3 separate regions of the Homo sapiens genome follow, and all the other regions are linked to region 3. The links come from fine-mapping of genetic effects on gene expression. A gene starts in region 3. Each other region holds a variant in brackets. All regions are shown on one strand. Distances are between the middles of the regions. Region 1 overlaps PDE1C (phosphodiesterase 1C). Region 2 has its middle 170 kb from the start of LSM5. Region 3 holds the start of PDE1C (phosphodiesterase 1C).

Evidence for each region. PIP is the estimated chance that this variant, and not a neighbour inherited with it, causes the effect.
Region 1: its variant is the best candidate, but not a certain one, in a credible set for the expression of PDE1C in fibroblasts (GTEx, PIP 0.51).
Region 2: its variant is the best candidate, but not a certain one, in a credible set for the expression of PDE1C in subcutaneous fat (GTEx, PIP 0.77).

Annotation. Positions count from the first base shown.
Region 1 is chr7:32,025,309-32,030,308 of GRCh38, forward strand. All of the region lies in intron 2 of PDE1C (phosphodiesterase 1C), which reads right to left. Among named protein-coding and RNA genes, the nearest start is that of PDE1C, 43 kb to the right of the region's middle. The variant T/C (reference allele first, on the strand shown) is at 2,992.
Region 2 is chr7:32,318,200-32,323,199 of GRCh38, forward strand. It overlaps a transcript of PDE1C not described here. Among named protein-coding and RNA genes, the nearest start is that of LSM5, 170 kb to the right of the region's middle. The variant T/C (reference allele first, on the strand shown) is at 2,808.
Region 3 is chr7:32,068,313-32,073,312 of GRCh38, forward strand. PDE1C (phosphodiesterase 1C) reads right to left here and starts at 2,095. Exons shown (of 18, transcript NM_001191057.4): 1 at 1,981-2,095. The coding sequence starts at 2,081.

The DNA.
Region 1 (5,000 bases), 43 kb before region 3:
CACAAGTAACAGCTTGAAACCCAAGGCCAGGGTCCAGATGGGTGTAGAGACGAGCTGGAGTGGGAGTTGAGGGTAGGGGGATTAGCAGAAACCAGTGGGGCATGCAGACTATAATTAGGAGCATGTATGTATTTGGGGCTTGAAGACATTGCTAAACAGCTGAAGGACACTGCTCAGGAACATGAGAAGCTGATCCCAGCAAGGCTGGTTGACGTTTCCAAGACTGGACAGAAAACCTGAGGAGGCTGGGAGGAGTGGGCAGTGCCAGAAAAAGTGAGAGCAGCAGCTCTGAGCAAGCAAGTCCTACCAGCATCATAAATGAGACGAAGAGCTAGGTTTGCCATGGTCAGGATTTTGCCACAGCAGGGAGAGGATGTTAAGATCAGTTACTGGCTGGCTCAAACTGACATGCCCATAATTACTTACTGAGCGTCCATGTCATGAATGGAGTGCTCTATCTGTACATACAGCCAGAGGTCATACAGTGAAGATAGTGTCCCTGCTCCACTTCTCTGTTCACAGGGGAGCATCTTCTCTCTTTGATCATAAGGAAGAGGAGCAGAGCACCTACCTAGCTGTGCCTTTTCAGGCCAACCACGTGCTGGCAGCGTCTGTTCCTTGTAAGACCTTCCCAGGAATCTGCTCTGCTAATGAGGCCCCTCTACCTGACAGCTGGTTACACAAGCTGCTATCAGAAAACAAAAGCTGCCTGTTGAGGTAACCAATATTTCCACACCTCACACACAAGCGTGTGCATGCACACACATACACACATACACACACACGCGTGCACTCTCCCCAGTAAAATTCAGAAACCATGCTCGGAATGAATCAACCACCAAATGGAACAAAGGCTGCCTCCAAGATAATTAGAGTTTGGACTGAACTGAATTTTTTCTGGCTTAGACTCAGCATTCCCACTTCTTTGGTTGCCAGCCCCACAGCCTACACAATAGGCACATGGGGCAAAGCTGGCTGCAGCTTATAGTTTTAGATGAAATGCTGGTAATCCATCCTCTGGTCTGCCATCTTCTCTTATCCCTCAGTAGCAACCACAGAAGACATTCACTGTCGATCTCAGAACATCAAGAACATACCTCGGTCCATTCTGCTGAGACAAGAGAATTCCAACTGAACCACTGATTTGGCCATATTAAGACAGTCTTCACCATTGCACACCTATTACAACGGCCAAAATACAAAACCCTGGCAACACCAAATGCTGTAGAGGATGTGGAGCAATAGGAACTCTCCCTCATTGCTGGTAGGAATGCAAAATGGTACAGCCACTTTAAAAGACAGTTTGGCAGATTCCTTCAAAACTAAACACACTCTTAACATCAGATCTGGGAATCATATATTCCTTGGAATTTACTCAGATAAAATGAAAACTCAGGTCCACAAAAAATGGCAGCTTTATTCATAATTGCCAAAACTTGGAAGCAACCAAGATGTCCTTTTATAGGTGAATGGTTAAACAAACTGTGGTACATCTAGACAGTGGAAAATAATCCAGCACTAAAAATTAAAAAAAAGAGAACATCAAGCTATGAAAAGACATAGAGAAAACATGAATACATATTGCTGAGTGGAAGAACCAAATCTGAAAAGGCTATATGCTGTATGATTCCAACTATATGACATTCTGGAAAGTATAACACTATGGAGACAGTAAAAGGATTAGTAATTGCCAGGGGTTTGGAGGAGGAAAAGTTGAATAGGCAGAGCACAGAGAGTTTTCAGGGCAGTGAAATTGCTTTGTATAACACAACGATAATAGATACATTTCATTATAAATTTTTCCAAACCTGTAGAATGTACATGACCCAAAGTGAATCATAATACATACTCTGAACTTCGGGCGAGAATGATCTGTCAATGTAGGTTCATTGATTGTAACAAATGCTCCACCCTGGTGGGCGATGCTGACAGTGGGGGAAGCTGCACATGTGGGGATGGGGGTTATTATGGAAAAATATCTGTACCTTCCTCTCACTTTTGCTGTAAACCTAAAACTGCTCTACAAAATAAAGCCTATTGATTAAAACAAAAATCTTCAGAGACTGACAAAAGTCAAATCAAAAATATGTTGACATGCAAACTTAATGGTGTATTGTGTGGGTTTCTGTTTGTTTGTGCTTATATGTGTGTTTAAATAGATACCAAGTTATAGCATTCTAGAAGAATGCTAAATTTACCAACATGGAAAAACATAAGATTCCAAATTCACCACAAATGGAATGCCACTGCTTCAATTTTCTTTGCAAAGGCAGAAAAAAAAAAAACTATCAAAAATGGTAAAAAAAAAAAAAAAAAAAAAAAAAAAAAAAAAAAAAAGACTAATGGGAAGAAATTTTTATCAATCAAAAATCACCACTCTGATCCTCTACCAAGATGAGCCTGACTGTTATGAGCTGCGTTACAAATGACTGCAAAAAAAAAAACTTTTAAAAAAATCTGCTGTCTATTAGGCTAATCTAGTGATTGCCATTTTCCTCAAATTCTTCATTTGATGTTTCCAAAGCAACAACAACAAAAAAATCTGATGTAGCAAGCCTTACACTGAAATCATATTAAATCTTCAAAAACCAATCAGAAAAAAAGCATAGGCAAGTCTTCTTGGGATTCAGACTTAATCACCTTTAGGTACTAAAGGTGGGATTAGAACTTAAGTATGTCTCTAATAAACAGGATGATGCAAAATCAATCCTGGCTCACTGCCAGTCTTCCTCCTGATTGACAGCTAGAGCAGGGCTGTCCAACAGCAAGACACCCTGAATTGCAGACATAATTTAAAATTTTCTAAGTAGTCATGTTTTATAAAATAAACAACTGAAATTAAGAGCATATTGTATTTAACTAATAGACTCAATTATTTATCATTTTAACATGTGACCATGGTAGCCACATTCCAAGGGCTCAAGAGCCACATGTGGCTAGTGGTTACCATATTGAACAGCAGATCTAGACTTCCAGTGTAAATCTAACAGG[T/C]CCCAAGCTTCTCCCTTTCAAATATGTATTTATTCATTCAAACACACAAAGTCTCTTCATATGCTTCATTATTCCTACTACTGGAGGTTCACCAGAGTCAGCAGTAACAGTGCTTGAGTCACACCTTCAATCTATGCAAACCATAAGAAAGATTAAGCTCTATGCCAATGTGAAAACCAGCTCAACTTCAGTTTCTTATTGTTATTATTATTATTACTAATTTATTTCCAGTATATATCCTTCCCATTTCTTTATCTTAATTTTTATTACATATTGACTATTTGTAATTATATATATTTATGGGGTACAAAGTGATGTTATAATTTATGAAAACAATGTGGAATAATTAAATCAAGCTAGTTAACATATCCATCACCTTAAATACTTAATTTTTTTTGTGGTAAGAACGTTAGAAATTTACCCTCTTAGCAATTTTGAAATGTACAATATTATTAACTATATTCACTACACTGTGCAATCGATTTCAAAAAAATTCCTCCTGTGTAACTGAGATTTTGTAACCTCTAACCATCAATTCCCCATTCCTTCCCTTCCCCCCAGCCTCTGTAGCCACCATTCTATTATCTGCTTCTATGAGCTTCGTTGTTTTAGATTCCACATCTAAGTGGAAACAATTAACAAGGTACGGAGACAATCTACAGACTTGGAGAAAACATTTGCAAGCCATACATCAGATAAGGTATTAATATCCAAAATATATAAGGAGCTCAAACAATTCAATAGCAAAAAAACAAAAAGCCTAATTTAAAAATGGGCAAGGGACCTAAATAGATATTTCTCCAATGAAGACATACAAGTGACCAACAAATACATGCAAAAACAAATTCACATTGTTAATTATTAGGGAAATGCAAAATAAAACCACAATGAGATATCATCTCAGATGGAGAAAAAAGGAAATCCTTATACATTGTTGGCAGGAATGTAAATTAGTACAGTACAGCCATTATGGAAAACTATACAGAGGTTCCTCAAAAAACTAAAAATACAACTACCATATGATCCAGCAATCCTACTTCCTAGTATTTATCCAAAGGATTTGAAATCATCTTGTCAAAGAAATACCTGCACTCCCATGTTCAATGCAGCTCTATTCACAATAGCCAAGTTACGGAATCAACCTTTTCACACTGTTTGGAAAAACAAAGAATTTCTCAACTAAAGTTTATCTTTGTGATAGAATAAATCAAGAAATAATAGGTGCAAAGCCATCTAGGGTCTGCAACAAGAGTGGAGGTAAGTGTAGTGAGGGGTGGGAGGAGAGGAAAGAAGGCAGAGAGGAAAGAAAGAAGGGAGGGGAAAATATCACAGCAGGTCATAGAAATTACCTCAAGGCATCGAGTTTAAGAGCAGGATTCCCACATTCAATGACTTTCACCCAAACAGGTAATGCAACCTAGGTTTAAAAAATTGTGTAAATGTTGTAAAAGGGATTTTCAAGGCAATGAACATTGATTACATGCACCAATACATCTGAAAGAGATAGAAAGCAGAGTTTAGCCAATACATTTGTGCATTTTAAAGACTGTCCCTTAATAAACACAATAATGAGCCTTCTTATATTGCTGCAACATTATTTATCACAGTAAAGAACTCGAAACAACTTAAGTGCCTATCATTAAGAGAACATCCCAATTAACCGTGATTTAGCCATACTGTAAACTTTTTAAAAAGAGGTACATTTCTATGAGCTGACATAGAAAAATATCCAAGCTACGGGTGAGTGAAAAAGCAAGTTGCTGAAAAATGCATATTATAACACACACACACACACACACACACACACACACACACACACACACACAAAGTGACAATAGCTATAATCTCTCAGGAGGAACCTGGGATAAGTTGGTTGTGGGGATAGAGGAGGAATCAAAGAAGACTGGACACTTTGGTCTTCTCAGTAGTATTTTTTTAATAAAGAAAATGTATTCAGATTTTACTTAGAGAAAAAGAATGATTTTAAAACAATAGTACACACCCTCAAA
Region 2 (5,000 bases), 250 kb after region 3:
CTCTAGCAACATTCCACAGCTGCCAGGGCCCCACACCTAGGGGCAACTTGTGGATACGTAGAATCCAAACCAAACCCCCCTTCTGAGTGTGATAAAATCCCTCCAAACCCCGAATGGCCTCACCATGTTTCGAGGGGTTCCCTCCCTCTAAACATTCCCCAAACCGCTCAGCCCAAGCACCAGGAACCTCATTTTGGGAAAACACGGGCTCTTCCTGCCCAAATCTCGCCCTCTAGGGAGCGGCTCTCCCTCCGCCGCGGTCTACACAGCTGTGCTTACAGCCTGCACCGCTGGCTGGGTGCCCGCCACGCACAGAAGGGCAGTAGGAACACAAAAGGGTGTGGTGGCCAGGGACCCAGAAGAAGTGAAAGGGGACCTGCGAGCGGGGAGTTTTCTGAAAACTGCACAAGCCTTCTTGGGCAGCGTGGTGTCTTTTCACCAGGACGCAGGTGCCTCTGTCTGCCAGCGGTGACATGGGTGAAGGGCTGCGCGCGTGAGCAGGAATAAAGCGAGAAATCACGACAGAGTTGGTCACGAGGACATTAAGATGCATTACATTTGCCCGCGTATCTACCTACAAAAAGAGCCACGGCAGAGGCCTTCTGTGTGACCAAGACCTCTACGGGAAGGGCGACACGGCTCACTTCCTGGCTGGGGCTCTGGCACTGGAAACGCTTAGGAAACTCCAGGCTCTGGACTGAGGTTCGGGAGGGCTGGACTTAAATCTTCGCTCCGCAATGGCTGAAATCAGCGTTGGTGCATTGAGACTTGGTTTCTCATCATTTCAAAAGAACCGGTGGTGATTGTCACGTCCGTGCTCCCTTAAGCTGTTGCAAGGGCAGAGGAAGCAGGCGGGAGGATTTGACCCATGTCCCTCGTTCTCCCGCGCCCTCCACGCCGTCACCCGGGAGCTGCAGTCCTCCGCAGCCTCCCTGCTCCCGACGCCTGCCTCTTTCCGTAAAGAAACTAAACGTGATCTGTGAGGTGCAGGGAGATGACCAGAGCGCCACGTGCTTGGAGACCGTTTTCGGACACTTCACTAGCTCCTCTGCCTGACTTTTGCTCCTGTGCGCTCCCTGCCCAGCCCTTTCATGGCGGGCCTTCCACCCTGCCCCTGCCCCTTGACTTGGTGTTCCCAAGGGCTCTGCTACACTCCCCCAGTGATGGCATCTGTGCCCTTGGGTGCTGTTGACTCTTCTCCCTCCAGCCAGCACGAGAAGGGACTGGAGCCATTGGGCCGTGGGCAAGCCATCACCGGAGAACCAGCTGGGAAAGTTAGGGGATCTCCCCCAGGCCCCTGGATTGATCCCCACCTGACACATGTTCCTGCATCCTGAGGGCCATGGTCTAGGGGAGGCAAAACGGGAAAAGTAGGCCAAACTCTGCTATAGAATGCCATTTGCCACAACTCTGTGAGGAGTTACAGTGACTCCCACCTTTCAGGTGGAAACACAAACTCAGCTTATGTAATCTGCTCAAGGTCACAGAGCTCAGAAGCAGCAGGCTTGGAACCCTGTCTTCAATAGGTCTCTGCACTTTTCTTCTTCCCAACAGCGACCGCTCTGGGTATGAAGGCTGAAAAGTCAAATGGATTCTGAAGTGAAATTGCTCCTACAGACATTTTTCTTAAGATAGTGTGTAATTGCACCTATTTCATGTTGACTAAAAGTATTTTCCCTCTGTTTTGTATAGTTTTTATGCCCCTTGAACATAGATAGGTAAAAATTACTTATCTCAAAGTCCAAAAATGAGTGGGATGGATAAAAGAGGTCCCAGAGTCCCACGGTCTTAGGGACAGAGCAAAGCTTCCCTGCCTACGACACAGCCAAATTGGGGAGGGGATAGGTGGGGCAACTTGAAGCCAATTCAGTGAACATTAATTTGTCACACAGCAGTTCCCCACACTACCAACTGACAGATTTTTGCCTCACCAAATCCTTATTTGTAATAACATTTTGTAAAGTTTACTAAGGTTTGTGTTTCATTTTGTATGTGCAGTATATTTTTACAATGACCACTGCTTGTATATTTTGAATTTTAAGTATCATGCTTGTAACAAATATCAAGGGTTTTCTATCCTCTTGGTTAGTCGATTTGCTTTATTGATGGAAGGGGGGAAAACAGGTAGAACTGGGGAACAACACACACTGGGGCCTGTGGGAGGAGTGGGAGGAGGGAGAGCATCAGGAAGAATAGCTAATAGATGCTGGGCTTCATACCTGAATGATGGGGTGATCTGTGCGGCAAACCACCATGGCACACGTTTACCTATATAACAAACCTGCACATCCTGCACATGTACCCCTGAACTTAAAAGTGGGGGGAAAAAGGTAGAGTTAAAGGGATTATGCAAGGAATTGTTCTAGGAATATTGTCACACTTTCAACTGCATGTGCCCCCACCAGGTGCTTAGGCACACACATACACACACACACACACACACACACACTTCCACATAAGCAAAATAAAAGTTTCACATATGTGTTAATTTTCATATGTCCATGTCAATTTAAATATGCTTAAGGAAAATTCCACTATTCATATAAACACATTGAGCCTCTCAGGGAAAGAAACTTAGAAAAGCAGAGCAAGGAAAGAAGCATTTATTGAGCACCTACTAAGCCCCTAGGGCTCTGTCCTATATTGTCACCAGAGCTGCATCTTCCTGAAACCCACGACCACTTGACAGGGAGGTATGTGTCATAATCCCCGTTTACAGAGGAGTAAAGTGAGACTCAAAATAAAATGTGCATCACAGACCTAGGTCACCCACTACAGAGTCCTGATTCAGGCCACCAATTTTGGAA[T/C]GGGGAGAGAACGAAGGTGAATCTCACAATCCAATCCTGATCCCTGTGATACAGCAGTCCCCCATCTCTTGCTCTGATCTACTCTCATCAGCTGAAGAACAATCGCTCAGTGACAAAAGAACAAAAATCTCAAAGAGAATTACACCAACCTCAATAACTATGCAGGTCCTTAAAAAAGACAAATTAAGACCCCTCATTTCTTTTGTGATACAGCCTCTCTTTAAGCACAATCACAGAGCAGAGCCTGCATTGTTAGCCCGGCTTTGATTTACAAAAACACAGCGCAGATGAGTTTCAAAAGGAAGAACAATTTATGAAAGGCAAAATGACAATAAATGTAGGAGGAGAAGAATCAAGGGGTTGGAATCTCTAAACCATTGTAAAATTACTTTTGGGTGGCTGTGGGAATATTACTCTACTATGTTAATTTCTCCAGCATGCATAAAATAGATGCCCCTTACTTTTGGGTGGCTGTGGGAGTGTTACTCTGTTATCTTAATTTCTCCAGTATGCATAAAATAGATGCCCCAGAGTTAAGGAACATTCCTGACTTCTTCCTGCTTCTCTTCAAGTGAATTGTTCAATTAATTAAAATCCATTATATTCCTAAAACTTCAGCAGACACTGGGGAGGAGAGAGATGGAATTTTGATAGCAGGTCTGCTACTAACTTGAGATGTAATCAGCTTAATGCTGATTTATTTTTCACATTCAGTTTCTATACTTACCAACTGGCATAAATTTCCCAGGGCAGGGTTTTTTCTACGAATGCTTCCTGAATTAATCCACCTATCTATCCACATTCTACAAACCCTAGAAGTTCCCATTTCAAACCCGATCAGTTGTTCAAATCTCCTTAATCCAGCCCACAAAGATCACTTCTTCTCTACCTCTGTTTGCACTTTTGCTCACATAATTAGCATGTAATAAGTACATTAAATGTATTAAATGTGTGCTATGTGACATGCACCAGATGCTATGATGGGAACTAAAGACAAAACGAGTAGTAATAATAGTTGAATTCACTGAAGGCCTACTAGGGGAAGGTGTGGTCTAGGAACTTTTATGTATATTAATTTATTTAGTCCTTATACTCTATAAGGAATGTCCTACTATTACCCTAATTCTACAGATGAAGTAAACTGAGCTATCCAGTAACTTGCTCAGGGTTACTCAGATTATAAGTGATAAAACAAGAATTTGAACACAGATAGCCTGGCTCTAGAGCCTTGGCAATTAATCACTACTCTACAGCAGCCATTCCTGGCCCACGTTCAAAAAGCTCATAATTGAATAAAAGACAGACATGTTAGCCAGGCACAGTGACCTACATGCCTCCCAAAACCAGCACTTTGGGAGGCCGAAGCAGGAGGATCACTTGAGACCAGGAGTTTGAGACGAGCTTGGGCAACACAGAAAGACGCCATCTCTACACACGTAAAAAAGAAGTTAGCCAGGCCTGGTGGTGCATACCTGTAGTCCCAGCTACTCAGAAGCCTGAGGCAGGAGAATCACTTGAGCCCAGGAGTTCAAGGATGCAGTAAGCTATGATCACACCGCTGCACTCCAGCCTGGGTGACAGAGCAAGATCCCATCTCTATTTTTTTCTTTTTTCTTTTTTTTTTTTTTGAGATGGAGTCTTGCTCTCTCACGCAGGCTGGAGTGCAGTGACATAATCTTGGCTCACTGCAACCTCCGCCTCCTGGGTTTAAGCAATTTCCTGCCTCAGCCTCCCAAGTAGCTGGGAATACAGGCGCCTGCCACCACACCTGGCTAATTTTGTATTTTTAGTAAAGACGGGGTTTCAGCATCTTGGCCAGGATGGTCTTGAACCCCTGACCTCAAATCCACCCTCCTTGGCCTCCCAAAGTGCTGGGATTACAGGCGTGAGCCACCATGCCCAGCCTCCCATCTCTATTTTTTTACAAAAAGACAGATGTAATCAGAAGGTGACACAAAGGGTTGCTATGCTTCAGTGGTTTGAGGAAAGGGACCAACAAAGACTGGGAGGGTCTGGTAGGAATTTCTCAGGAAGATACAGGGGTGGGGAGAGATTTAAGGCATTTTTTAGTTTAGCCAACTAAAGTGACATGTAACATCAAATTTCTCCTAGCTCTACCATTCTGTAGATCCATGAGCAGGATTGTATCATAACTTAAAGAATAACTTTTCCTGGGTTTACAAAGAATGTTGT
Region 3 (5,000 bases):
AAATGTTATTCCAAGTTGTATAAAAGAGTGTGTGCTTTGGTTTCCAGAGTCTTTAGCTATTTATTCTAGCACTGCTGTTATGTTTAAAAAGAAGAAGAAGAAGAAGTGGTAAGGATCACATACTGGTAAAAATATGTATAATAATAACAAATAATAGCATCTCCTTTTCAAATTAGAAAGTGAAGCTATAATCACCCCACACTTTTCATGTTCAAAAGCACTAGGTTCTGAGTAGATACAAGAGACTAGAAAATGAAAATGTAGTTACATTACACTGCAACACCTTGGAGAGAGAAGCCTAGCAGATATGAAACTGAGAAAGCTACACGACGCAGTGTTGTAAGTGCTAATGCTTTTCCACACAAGTTCCCGCCTCAGCATTGCTGATTTGACCAAACACTTGTCTCTAGCCCAAATGTCTCCATGGAGTCGGTTTAAATTGAAAAGCAGTCCAAGAGAAGAAGTTCCTGGGTGTATGGATATGAATCCCTCTAGTCAGCATGGCAAGGAATCCAGCTCGACAACGCTTTCACATTATACACTTTGGGCCCAGACTTTGTGGACACAACAAACTTTCTGTGTGCAGCACAATACAATCGGACGTAATGTTCACTAAATATAACATGAGATTACTGTAAACACCACTCCGAGAGCTGCTGCGTTGCAGGCATCTAAACTGTCAGGAAAGCCTGCCAGCCAGAGACAAGGTTTCCAAATAAATTTACAGTCTCCACTAGCGGTGGCTAGACAAGTCAAAAATCAAATTATTTGGCATGGTTTCCCATTGAAATCAATGGCAATGAAGCTCACTTGGACTATATATGGAATGGCTTTTATAAATTGCACCTGTCAATAAGGACCCCTTAAAGAAACACATACTACCTTAATGCTTCTCCTTAGAAACTTTGAATATCAAGCTAACTTAGATCAACACATTTTTTATTTGTCTTTTGTTTGTGTGTGTGCTTTCAAAAACAATAACAGCAGCAAAACAAACAAACTGGCAGGAAGCTGGTTTTCCCATCAGTGCCCTTGTTAGAAACAGAATGTCTAGAGAATATGCTTGGAGAAAAGCCATATTTTTAAACCACACTAGATATCTGATGCCAAATGACTGATGAAAGTAGTATCTAGTAGTAATGGAAGGTGTCTTTGGGACCTGCCCAGTGACTGAGGAGCAAGCTGTGAATATACAGCTATCCCTCAAGCTCCTGACTGGAGTGACCAGCAGTTCACTGATGATGAAATATTTTTACAGAAAATACCATGTATTTTCAGGTCACCTCTCCTCAGTACCCAAAAACAGACAGAACCCAATGAAGTGAATGAAATTCAGAGATCTCCATCCATCAGGGCAACTAGAATTCTGGCCACTCTATTTCATTGTTCAAATATTGCAAGAAAACCCCAATATCGTTTCTGCCCCCCCTTTCTCCACAAGAGCCTTTCCTTCTAGTAAACATTTCTCCACCAAAAAGAACCCCAGGAAATATCAGAAGTTCGACTGGGCTAAGGAGAGGGAAAAAAGAAATGTAGCAGCCAGAATGCATGTTGAATTTTAACTGTTGGTAAGTTCTTGGACCACCTGCCCAAGTGTATGCAAGCAGTTTGCAGAGAAAAATTCTTCCTTCAATTAAAAGTCCCTGTCTGGGTCTCAAACTTTTCTCCCTGGGCAAAAAGGATCAGAAACACCTCATTGAGTATTGGGCCACCATAACTGACTCATCAAAGGACATCTCTCCTTCCCCCCAAAAAAGCATGACTTGGAACAGCAAGGCATTCTAAGACAGAAAGACAACCCTCTCTGTGTTGGAAGAAAAGTAGCAGTGACTGTAATTAACAGAGCAGCAGTTGTGGAACTTCTAGGGTTGTATTTAAAGGCCCATGCAGGAACAGGGTGAGCAGTCGTGACTGCGGCTGTGTGGTAAAATAAGGATGGGAGCGGGAAATGGGGCAGGAGAAGTAAATAGGTATACTTACAGCCCGCGGAGCCGAAGCCAGATTTTCTCGATCTGTTCCGGTTGCAGGTATTTCAGAGAGTTGCTCTCAAATTCTTCAATCTCCTTGGTTGGCGACTCCATAGCTGCAGGTAGGTGACCACTGGCGGTGAAGCTGAGATAGTTTGGGCTGTCCCCTCCCCGTCTCCTCGCCCAGCTCGCGATGCCCAGCCAGGCGCGGCGCGCGTTTGCCCGGCACTTTCTCGGCGCGCTCCCCCTTCTGCGCCCCCAGACTCCGACTTAGAGCGGACTCCGATCGCGGCAAACCATGGCCCCAGGTGCGCTCCGGAGGCAGCTGCGGGAACCAGCCATGGTCCCGGGCTAATGCCCAGGGATAAGCACAGGGATAGGGATAGAGATAGGGATTGGGATTGGACTCCAGCTCCAAGAGAAAGCACCTCGGGTCTATTCGTATTCTCCCCCTACCCCCAAACAAAGCCACAGAAGCGATCAGCGCGCAGCTAAAGGGTTTGGAGGTGAAAAGGAGGGCTGGGTGGGGAGGAGAGAAAGTGAGAAGGGAGAGAAAAGCGGCGGCTGAGCAAAGCGGGAGCCGGCGCGGGCGGTGGGGCCTGACCCGGACGCCGCGCACCCGGCTCCGCCCCGCGCCCAGCGCCCCGCTCACTCCCTGGCCGCGCCTGCCTTCGCGCCCCTCTGTTTTCTCTCACTTACCAGCAGCTCTGCTGACAAGCGAGAAAACTGACAAGTGAGAAAAGTCGTCTGTCAGCGCCCGGGCTGGTGTCTGGGCTGTCACCGCGGGCGCGGAGGGAGGGGCGCGCGGGCACCGCCGTCTGCCGGGCACACGCTGGGCTCCGACCCCGGCCGGGCACACTCACCCCCGCAGGGCAGCCGCGGCCACCACCGACCTGCGGAGCTGCGTGGGCTTCCGGAACCCTCACCTCAACAAGAGCTCGGCTCCGCGCGCAAGTAGGAGGGAAGGGAAATCCTTATCCTCCCGGGGCCAGGGCACGCAGAAGCCGCGAGGCTTCGCGGAGGTTGGGCCTGGAGGTCCCCCACAGCCTCACTCTCGCACCCGCCACAGAACCGGATCCATTTTGAAATATTGAAGCGACTGATGGGGACGAAGGGAACCACACACCACACTCAAAAACTCTTGATGTTTTCTTGCTAAAGGGGCTCTCTCGCTCGCGCTCTCTCTCCTCCCTCATTCCCTCCCTCCCTCCCTTTCACCCCCCCACCCCCATCTCTCTCTCTTGTGCGGAAGAAAAGGAGAAAATATACCAATAGTGAGGAGGTAAGTTTCTTCAGATCAATATCACACGCTACTCAAGAGGGTCCCTCCTGGGTGCTGGCTGGGCGGCTGTGGATGGTGACAAAGTTTCAGCTCCACAAAGCTGCAACTCACTGTCAGGGTTCCCCTAGTTCATGAACAATGTCAATAAGGTAGAATGCTCTGGAAGAACGGGACCAGGTATGAAGTTGGGAGTCAGGGAGGGAGGACAGATGAAGAGAGGAACCAAAGACTGGGGGAATCCATGCCCAAGATGATTGCAAGCGACATCACAGAAGGGTCCGTCAAACTTCCTTCTAGGTGAAGCCACCACCAGGGGCTATTTCAAACCTGGCTCTCAGGGTTCCTGAGATTCAGGGTGGGGCATGCCCTATACAGTATTTTTCCTCAATGACAGGTAATACTTCTTTCCATCACACTCTCAGAATTATTTTCCTATCTATTAGATGATTACCTGCTTCCCAAAAGCATGATAAACTTAGAAGTGAGGACTAGTTTCTCTTCACTGCTCAAGTAAAGTTCCATTCACCTGACCTTAACAAAGGAATAAAATGGTCTCTAAATCATAAATGCTCACCCACTTCATAATTGGCATTCATTTTCCAGAACTTAGAGGTGAGAGTGATGAGGATGCTTGGCTGGCCCCATGCATTCTAGCAGAGAAGGTAGTAACTCAAGGTAAGACAAAAGACCTGTTTGATGAAAAACGACTTACCTACTCACCTGCCAGGTAAATCTGAAGTCGCCCCATTAAAGGCAGCCTTTTAAGGTTTATGGAGGCGCATATATTTTCACTGAGTTAAGGTATTATTACTAGGCAATGGTAACATTAAGCAATATTTTAACATGGAGTTCATCTATCTGAATAAAACCAATTACCCTTCCAGTGTCACCCAGCAGAGAAACAGTGCCCTGGGGAAATAGAATGTCACAAGAGGAAATTTTTATAGTGACGTGTTTTGAGAATGGAAGACAGCAGCATGGTCCCCAAATGGGGTATTTCCATTAGTGTGTGCACCTTGGGCAGCCTGCTGGCACCATGTGGAAGTACAATAATGATAATAACAGCAAACAAGTGTCAGAAACTTTCCATAGCCCAAGCATTGTTCTAAGTGTTCTACTCTCATGTAATACTCGAGACTATTCTATGAGGTAGATACTATTATTATCATCCCCATTTTACAGTAAGAAAACTGAAGCACCAGGAGGCTTCCTAGACCAACTAGAGAGAAAACTGAACTAGAAAAGACCAGAGTTTGAGTTATGGCTGATTACCTTATCCTATACAAATACATCCCCCTCACAGAGTCCCATTTTCCACATCTATAAAGTGATACATTTAGGCAAAAATATTTTTATGTTGTTTTCAGCTTTATGATTCATTGAGGTCATCTGGAGAGACTTGGAAAAAGAAATTGCTGAAAAGAGAGACGAATAATGCTGAATTCACATTTTAACTATGTCATAGTTTCTCTAAGTACTGGCCTAGGATGAAAATATACAAAGGAATATTAAGCATGATACTTACCTTTCACTCCATACCACATCTATGACTTTTTCCTACTCTTAGTGGAATTTTGATTGTCAGAGAAAAGCAAATTTTGGAAGAAAAAGGAAAGAAATCGACTTTTGCTGCAATTAAGCAAATCAGAGAGAAAAGAGCAAAAACATTTTTTTTAAGTTTTTGAAGCTAGATTTTGTTTCATTTGAGAAAATTTCTTACAAAATTAATGTGTATTAGAAAGTCAGGAAAA